2 linked regions of the Homo sapiens genome follow. Each later gene encodes a partner of the first gene's protein in a complex. Each region holds a gene or a part of one and is shown on either strand. Other genes may lie near its edges. The genes, in order: STRAP and GEMIN2.

What was found.
Region 2: STRAP (region 1) and GEMIN2 share a complex: the UniProt entries of both Homo sapiens proteins name them as parts of the SMN-Sm complex.

The regions. Positions count from the first base shown.
Region 1 is NC_000012.12:15,899,103-15,903,026, forward strand, and holds part of STRAP (serine-threonine kinase receptor-associated protein), read left to right. Parts: intron 1-801; coding exon 802-951; intron 952-1,844; coding exon 1,845-1,910; intron 1,911-3,814; coding exon 3,815-3,876; 3' UTR 3,877-3,924. UniProt on the Homo sapiens protein: The SMN complex catalyzes the assembly of small nuclear ribonucleoproteins (snRNPs), the building blocks of the spliceosome, and thereby plays an important role in the splicing of cellular pre-mRNAs.
Region 2 is NC_000014.9:39,131,177-39,135,100, forward strand, and holds part of GEMIN2 (gem-associated protein 2), read left to right. Parts: intron 1-781; coding exon 782-892; intron 893-2,484; coding exon 2,485-2,543; intron 2,544-3,924. UniProt on the Homo sapiens protein: The SMN complex catalyzes the assembly of small nuclear ribonucleoproteins (snRNPs), the building blocks of the spliceosome, and thereby plays an important role in the splicing of cellular pre-mRNAs.

The sequences.
Region 1 (3,924 bases):
CTGAATTATTTGCCCAAGATCTGAAGTCACAGTGAATACCAGATCTGCCTAGCCTTTCTCTTTCCAAAACCTTGTGTTCTTTGTACTCTTACAACTTTTCTATTCTCTGGTGGGACACAGATGGGAGACAGAATAGGAACATTGGTCTAGTAAAGGGCTTTGAGAACTAATAAGGTGATGAGGCATTAGAAAGTAAATGAGAAAGGTTCATACTTAAAGGTACTACTTGAATATAACAGTGCTCCTAATCTATACATTTTCTCATTAGGTTCCATGGATTAAAATATTTATGGATCATTGTTGATCTATATCTCACCTTTCTGTGTGACAGAATAATTAGTGGACTGTAGGAAATTAAGAGGCAAAGTGTGTAAAAGAGCTCCACCTGGTGGCTCTCTATAGTCATAATAAAAATTGATTCCCTGAGAAATAGGCAGTGAGTTTTAGGATATGGAAATTGGAGGTTGAACTGGTAAGACTTTAAATCTACTTTCTATAGAATTAATGGGGTTTTCATTTACCTCTTTTTCTCCATCCTTAATGAGACATGAAGCCTCATTTGCTTTTTTTAGAGGGACAGTTTGAAACTAGAATGTGTGCTAGATTTGGAAAGGAATAATCTTACAGAGAAAGGGTCAATGATATACCACTTTTGTGATGAGAAATTAATTAAGTACAGGTTTTAATGTTTGCCTTAAGAATTTTCCATCTCCCCAGTAACACAGACAGTATTTTTTTTTTTTAGCATATCAATATTTAACCTAATAGTTAAAATTATCTAATAGCCCTCTTCTTTTTCAGAATCCTACAAGGGACACTTTGGTCCTATTCACTGTGTGAGATTTAGTCCTGATGGAGAACTCTATGCCAGTGGTTCAGAAGATGGAACATTGAGACTATGGCAAACTGTGGTAGGAAAAACGTATGGCCTTTGGAAATGTGTGCTTCCTGGTAAGAATTTTTATTCAGAATAATAAAATTTTTAAAATGCATGATTTTATGTCATTTTTAATCATTAATTTTATTTCAGGGTTCCTGTTTTCTATAAATTTTAAATTATATATTATGGTTTAAGCAGCGAGAAGCCCAGGATTATAAATTGGCCAGAGAAAGGGTCATGTTCCTTTGTTTAAATTTTTTTTGGTATGGCTGGGCACGGTGGCTCACGCCTGTAATCCCAGCACTTTGGGAGGCTGAGGCGGGCGGATCACAGGGTCAGGAGTTCGAGACCAGCCTGGCCAACATGGTGAAACCCCATCTCTACTAAAAATACAAAAATTAGCCAGGTGTGGTGGTACATGCCTGTAATCCCAGCTACTCAGGAGGCTGAGGCACGAGAATTGCATGAACCCAGGAGCCATGCATTGAGCTGAGATCACGCCACTGCACTCCAGCCTGGGCAAGAGTGACTCAGTCTCAAAAAAAAAAAAAAGAAAAATTTGTTGTACAATCTAGTCTGTTCCTAAATTTTTATACTAGCACATTTTGTGGCTGGAATAGATCTAATTCAAAATTTGCTGGAAGGCAATATAAAGAATTTACAAGTAAATGTATCTAATCTCTGAATAGTATTACTCACTGATCCACACCAATAAAGATAGACATGTTCTTAATAAAAAATACCTAGTTACTAATCCCTAAGTAGTTGCAGTATGAACCTAAAAGTAATTTTAAAGAAAGACATACTATTTTTAGAATCACAGTTATTTAAAAAGGAGTTGTTTTTATTATATTTTGTAGCCATTTTCCTGGAATAGTCTTATGTTGCTCTTCTTGCTTATTGAACACTGGAAATTACTTTAATAGTGTAAGTCATATAATCGTCATTGCTTTTCTTTTTACAGAAGAAGATAGTGGTGAGCTGGCAAAGCCAAAGATTGGTTTTCCAGAGACAACAGAAGAGGAGCTAGGTAAATGCTATGGAATTGACTTTTGTAAGAGTCTTGGGGGATTTAAAATTGAACTGTAACAGAAGTTTTACTCATTGGCAGAAGAAATTTATTAAATATGAACATATTTAAATAATGGAAACTTTAAATATTTATGCATGTATATATACATATTTATAAGCTAAATATTTAAATACCTACTGCATAGTAGTAATAGGCACAGAGATGTAGTATGGACACAACCGATGTGGTTACTCTTTCAGAGCTAGAGTCTAACTTAGGAGACATGCCAAAACACAAATTATTGTAAGGGGGATTAAAAAAAGCTTCCTAGAGAAGTGACATTTAAACTGGGAACTAAGGATGAGCAGAAATGATTTAGGTGAGGTCATGAGAGGGGGTGTTGGTAGGGACAGGATGGAAAAGTTCATAGCAGGAAAACTATGTTAACTAAAAGTTCAGAACCAAAAAGGAGCATAGCATATGAGGAACTAAAAGAACTTCTCCATGCCTCCAGGTTAAAGAGCAAAGGCAAAGTGAAGCTGGAGAAGCTAGATCATCTGAGGGCCTCATTTGCTGTATTAGGACTTGGAGAGTTTTATACTAAGAGCAATGAGAAACCTTTGAATTTTAAGAAGAGGACTTTAAAAGATTGCCTTGGTAGTTCAAGACCAACCTGGCCAACATGGTGAAACCCTGTCTCTACTAAAAATACAAAAATTAGCCGGTCATGGTGGCAGATACCTGTAATCCCAGCTATTTAGGAGGCTGAAGCAGGAGAGTAGCTTGAACCCAGGAGGTAGAGGTTGCAGCGAGCCGAGATTGCGCCACTGCACTCCAGCTTGGGTGTCAGAGAGAGACTCTGTCTCAAAAAAAAAAAAAAAAAAAAGGTTGCCTTGGCTGTTGCACGTACAAAGAATTGGACTGGGAACAAGAGTGAACATAAACCAGTTAGGGGGCATTGTAGTCTAGATGAGTGATCATGTAGGTTTTGTTTTGTTTTGAGATGGAGTCTTGCTCTGTTGCCCAGGCTGGAGTGCAGTGGCATGATCTCGACTCACTGCAGCCTCCGCCTCTGGTTTCAAGCAATTCTCCTGCGTAAGCCTCCTGGGTAGTTGGGATTACAGGTGCACCACCACGCCTGGCTAATTTTTGTATTTTTAGTAGAGATGGGGTTTCACCATGTTGATCAGGCTGGTCTTGAACTCCTGACCTCATGATCTGCCCACCTCGGCCTCCCAAAGTGCTGGGATTACAGGCGTGAGCCACTGCACCCGGCCTATCATGTAGTTTTTAATAAGGGTATTGCAATGAGAACAGAAAAAGGTAGATGGAGTTGAGAGTCTTTTGTTAGACTTGTTAGAATTGTGAGATTGATGAGTGGGGGTATCATGAGGAAGAAATATGCAGATTGCTGCCATGAGAAACTGGGTATGATGATTTTGGGGGAGGTTGGGAAGGTGTTTACCATTTACCCAATAGAGTTTTCCTTAAATTTTTTATTGTTAAGCACCTTCTTGCTAAAACAATGTTGATGGTTAATGTTTTGCTTTAAATAGCACTAAATATTAGGATTTGAATCACTAAAAGAGAGGGCCAGATCCTTCGAAGACATGACTTTAATTCCGGGTTTGTTATATAGCTGGAGTCTTTGAAAATTTAGGCCAGAAAGGGACCCTTGGAGGTTGAGTTATGGTGTAAGAGAATCTAGTGGATAAAACACATGAACTCTTTCTTCTTTGCCTTTTCAATGACATGAGTCTAGTTGTTAGTGGCATGTGCAGTTGCTCTCTTCTTTCCCTTACCACAGTATGCTTTACAAACACTTTTTCATTCCTTCATTACACAGAAATGTAGATTTGCTTCTTTCTTTCATTAAGTTGACTAATGTGACTTTTTTTTTTTTTTTTTTTTTTTACTTATAGAAGAAATTGCTTCAGAGAATTCAGATTGCATCTTTCCTTCAGCTCCTGATGTTAAGGCCTGAGCGTCAATCATATGTGCAGTTAGTATACAACTGACTAAAACAAGCAAG
Region 2 (3,924 bases), on another chromosome or scaffold:
ATTCCAGGTACTCAGGATGCTGAGACAGGAGAATTGCTTGAACCCGGGAGGCAGAGGTTGCAGTGAGCCGAGATCGCGCCATTGCACTCCAGCCTGGGCAACAAGAGTGAAACTCTGTCTCAAAAAAAAAGAAAGTTGTACATACGAATAGGAAAAACAAGAACATTTTTAAAGTGAATCAAAGTTTGATCTGGAATGTTGGGACTGCAGGTTTTTTCTTGTGCTTGTGGTATTCTTCACAGTTTTTCTGCATCAAATATGTATTCATTTTGTAGCTGAAAACCCCATTTTAAAAGGGAGTGGGGATACATTGAGCCTGTCAAAGTATTTATAAAAGTGTCAAAAGATTATTTCATCTGTAGTATAGTTTCTTTGTATGTCCCCAGAGGACAAAATTATACAATTATAAAATGATTTCTATATCTGTCCATACAGAACAAAGAAAAAAATGTATCTTAATTTTTTCCAGTATTTATATTCATCTTAATGTAGTGTTCTGCTTACAAATGAGAACTTCCTATCATAAGAATATCTGAAACAAACTCTTTGGAGATCAGGGAATATTTTGAGGTATCCAATGTCCTGTGTCTGTAATTATAGGATACAAGAGATAACACCTGGCTCTCCAAATGAGGCTTTCTTGTCTATACCCAAACATAATATAGTTAAATGTTCTATGAATTTATTCATAGCAGATAATCAGGCATAACATTGGACATTTAAAAAATAAACTTCTGGTTCAGTATTTGTCTAAATATTAATTTTTTGAATTTTTTTTTAGGGAAGATGGCTTTATGCTTTATTGGCTTGTCTTGAAAAGCCTTTGTTACCTGAGGCTCATTCACTGATTCGGCAGCTTGCAAGAAGGTGCTCTGAAGTGAGGCTCTTAGTGGTAAGTTGCAACTTACTGTTTAAAATTAAAAGCACCCACCAATTTATATGGTGGTAAAGAAGGAGTTCAGTGAAATAGGAAAACACATGGAATATTTTATTGGTGGCAATTAGATTTGTAAAGCCCAAAATAATAGTAGCTTAAATAATATGGAAATGTTTTCTGAGATAAAGAAGTCTGAGCCGGGCGTGGTGGCTCACACCTATAATCCCAGCACTTTGGGAGGCTGAGGCGGGTGGCTCACCTGAGGTCAGGAGTTTGAGACCAACCTGGCCCACATGGTGAAACCCCGTCTCTACTAAAAATACAAAATTTAGCTGGGTGTGGTGGTGGGTGCTTGTCATCCCAGCTACTCAGGAGGCTGAGGCAGGAGAATCGTTCGAACCCAGGAGGCGGAGGTTGCAGTGAGCTGAGATTGCACCACTGCACTCCTGCCTGGGCAACAGAGCAAGACTCTGTCTCAAAAAAGAAGTAGGTAAAAAAATTAGATTTTTACTAAGATGGCAGTAACCCACCCACACCTTTGAGTTTTGTCATATGTGGCTTTCATCCTCATGCTCATCTTATGATCCAAGATGGCTGCTGTAGCTTCAGCCTTTTTTTTTTTTTTTTTTTTTTCTTTTATTGTGAGATGGAGTCTCGCTCTGTCACCGAGGCTGGAGTGCAATGGTGCGGTCTCGGCTCACTGCAACCTCCGCTTCCCAGGTTCAAGCAATTCTCCTGCCTTAGCCTCCAGAGTAGCTGAGATTACAGGTGCCCGCCACCATGCCTGGCTAATTTTTGTATTTTTAGTAGAGACAGGGTTTCACCATGTTGGCCAGACTGGTCTCAAACTGCTGACTTCAAGTGATCCACCTGCCTCAGCCTCCCAAAGTGCTGGGATTACAGGCATGAGCTACTGCACCTGGTGTGTGTGTGTGTGTGTGTGTGTGTATATATATGTGTGTGTGTGTGTGTGTATATATATATATCTTTATATATATATCTTTATATAATTCAGTAATGAATATATATAAGAACAGTAAGAATCCTGTGTCTTGACTGTACAGTGATTAATATATATTATATATATTCATATATATTCTATATATATCCTCACATATATTGTATGCATTATATAGAGGAACAATAAGAATCCTGTGTCTTGACTACAGTGATAAATATATTTATTCATATATGTATATTAATATATATTTATTATATATGAATACATATTCACTACAGTTAAGACACATATATAATATATATGAATATATATATATATATTCATCACTGTACAGTTAAGACACAGGATTCTTATTGTTCCTTTAGTAGGAACCAGGGAAAAATTTCCCCCAAGTTATCCCCCTTAGATCCCTCTTTATTTTTTTTTCCCTATTCAGAATCTTTATTTAAAAGATAGTCTTAGATGTTTCTCAAGGAATCATTAACTCTACAGTTCTCTGCTTTTTCTTTGAGGGCTCCTATTTCCACATGATGATTACTGTCATATAATAAAGTTTTCATGTTTCGTGTTTTACATCTTAATAGAAAATTTATTTCAAAAGTAATAGGAACAGACAATATTTAAATTTTTCTTTTTTTTTTTTTAGGATAGCAAAGATGATGAGAGGGTTCCTGCTTTGAATTTATTAATCTGCTTGGTTAGCAGGTATAGTTAATCCTTGGCTTCTTTATTATTTATCAGTGAGGTCAGTGAGGTTAGATCGTATTTATTACATTTGGTTTTTGTTTGGTTGGTTTTTTTTTGAGTCTCACTCTGTTGCTATAGTTAGGGTGCAGTGGCGCAATCACAGCTCACTAGAGCTTTAACTTCCTGGGCTCCAGCAATCCTCCCACCTCAGCCTCCTGAGTAGCTAGGACCACAACCAAGCACCACCACACCTGGCTAATTAAAAAAAATTGTTCGTAGAGACAGGGTCTCACTATGTTGCCCAGGCTGGTCTCAAAACTCCTGGGCTCAAGCGATCCTCCCACCTAAGCCTCCGAAAGTGCAGGGATTACAGGTGTAAAGCCACTGCATTCAGCCTGCATTTTTGTTTAATTGCCTGTGTCCTGCGTTCATTTTCAGTTGTGGCATATTTTTATTTAGTATCTGTTTTATTTCATTTCTTACATAGAAATTCTTCTTGGAATTTATTTGAAAACTTTTTTTGTTGTTTTGTTTTGAGACAGAGTCTCGCTCTGTTGCCCAGGCTGGAGTGCAATGGCACCATCTCGGCTCACTACAACCTTCACCTCCTGGGTTCAAGCAATTCTCCCCCCTCAGCCTCCCAAGTAGCTGGGCTTACAGGCACCTGCCATCATGCCCGGCTAATTTTTGTAATTTTGTGGAGACGGAGTTTCACCATTATTGGCCAGGCAGTAAAACACACATATTTATTTTAGGTCTCCTCCTGGACATATTTTTGTTCCATAGATCAGTGTTTTTATTTCATTGCCAGTACCTTTTTAAAGCTTTATAATATACTTAAATATTGGGAAGGCAAGTAATCTTGTTTCCATATTTTCACATATTCAATATCTAGTTTCTTGATCTACAATAATTATGCTGCTGATGATAATTAACATTTACTGGGCAATTTGTGCCAAGCATTTTTCTTAGTGAGGAACCCATTTAATCCTTCTAAGGTGGGTACTGTTAACAGTTTACAGATGAGGAAACCATGGCAGAGAGAGGTTAAATAATATTACTACCATCACAAAGCTAGTAAGTGTTAGAGTAATGATCCAAACCCAGGCAACTTTGACTCCGGAGCTAAACTTTTAACTATGCTGATCAAAAATTAAGCTAATACCTACCTCATCTGTTGGTAGTAGCAGTTAAATGAGATGATATAGCATTGCCCTACTTACTTTATGTATAGTATCTCTACTCTTTACAATAGATCAGAGTTGTGTTTTTGTTTTTGTTTTTGTTTTAATAAATTTTTTCCTTTCAGCTCTGTTGGACTTGATTTTTTTCCTTTTACAGATAATGACACAGATTCAGAAAGGTTAAGTAATTGGTAGCTCAGCAAACCAGTAATTAA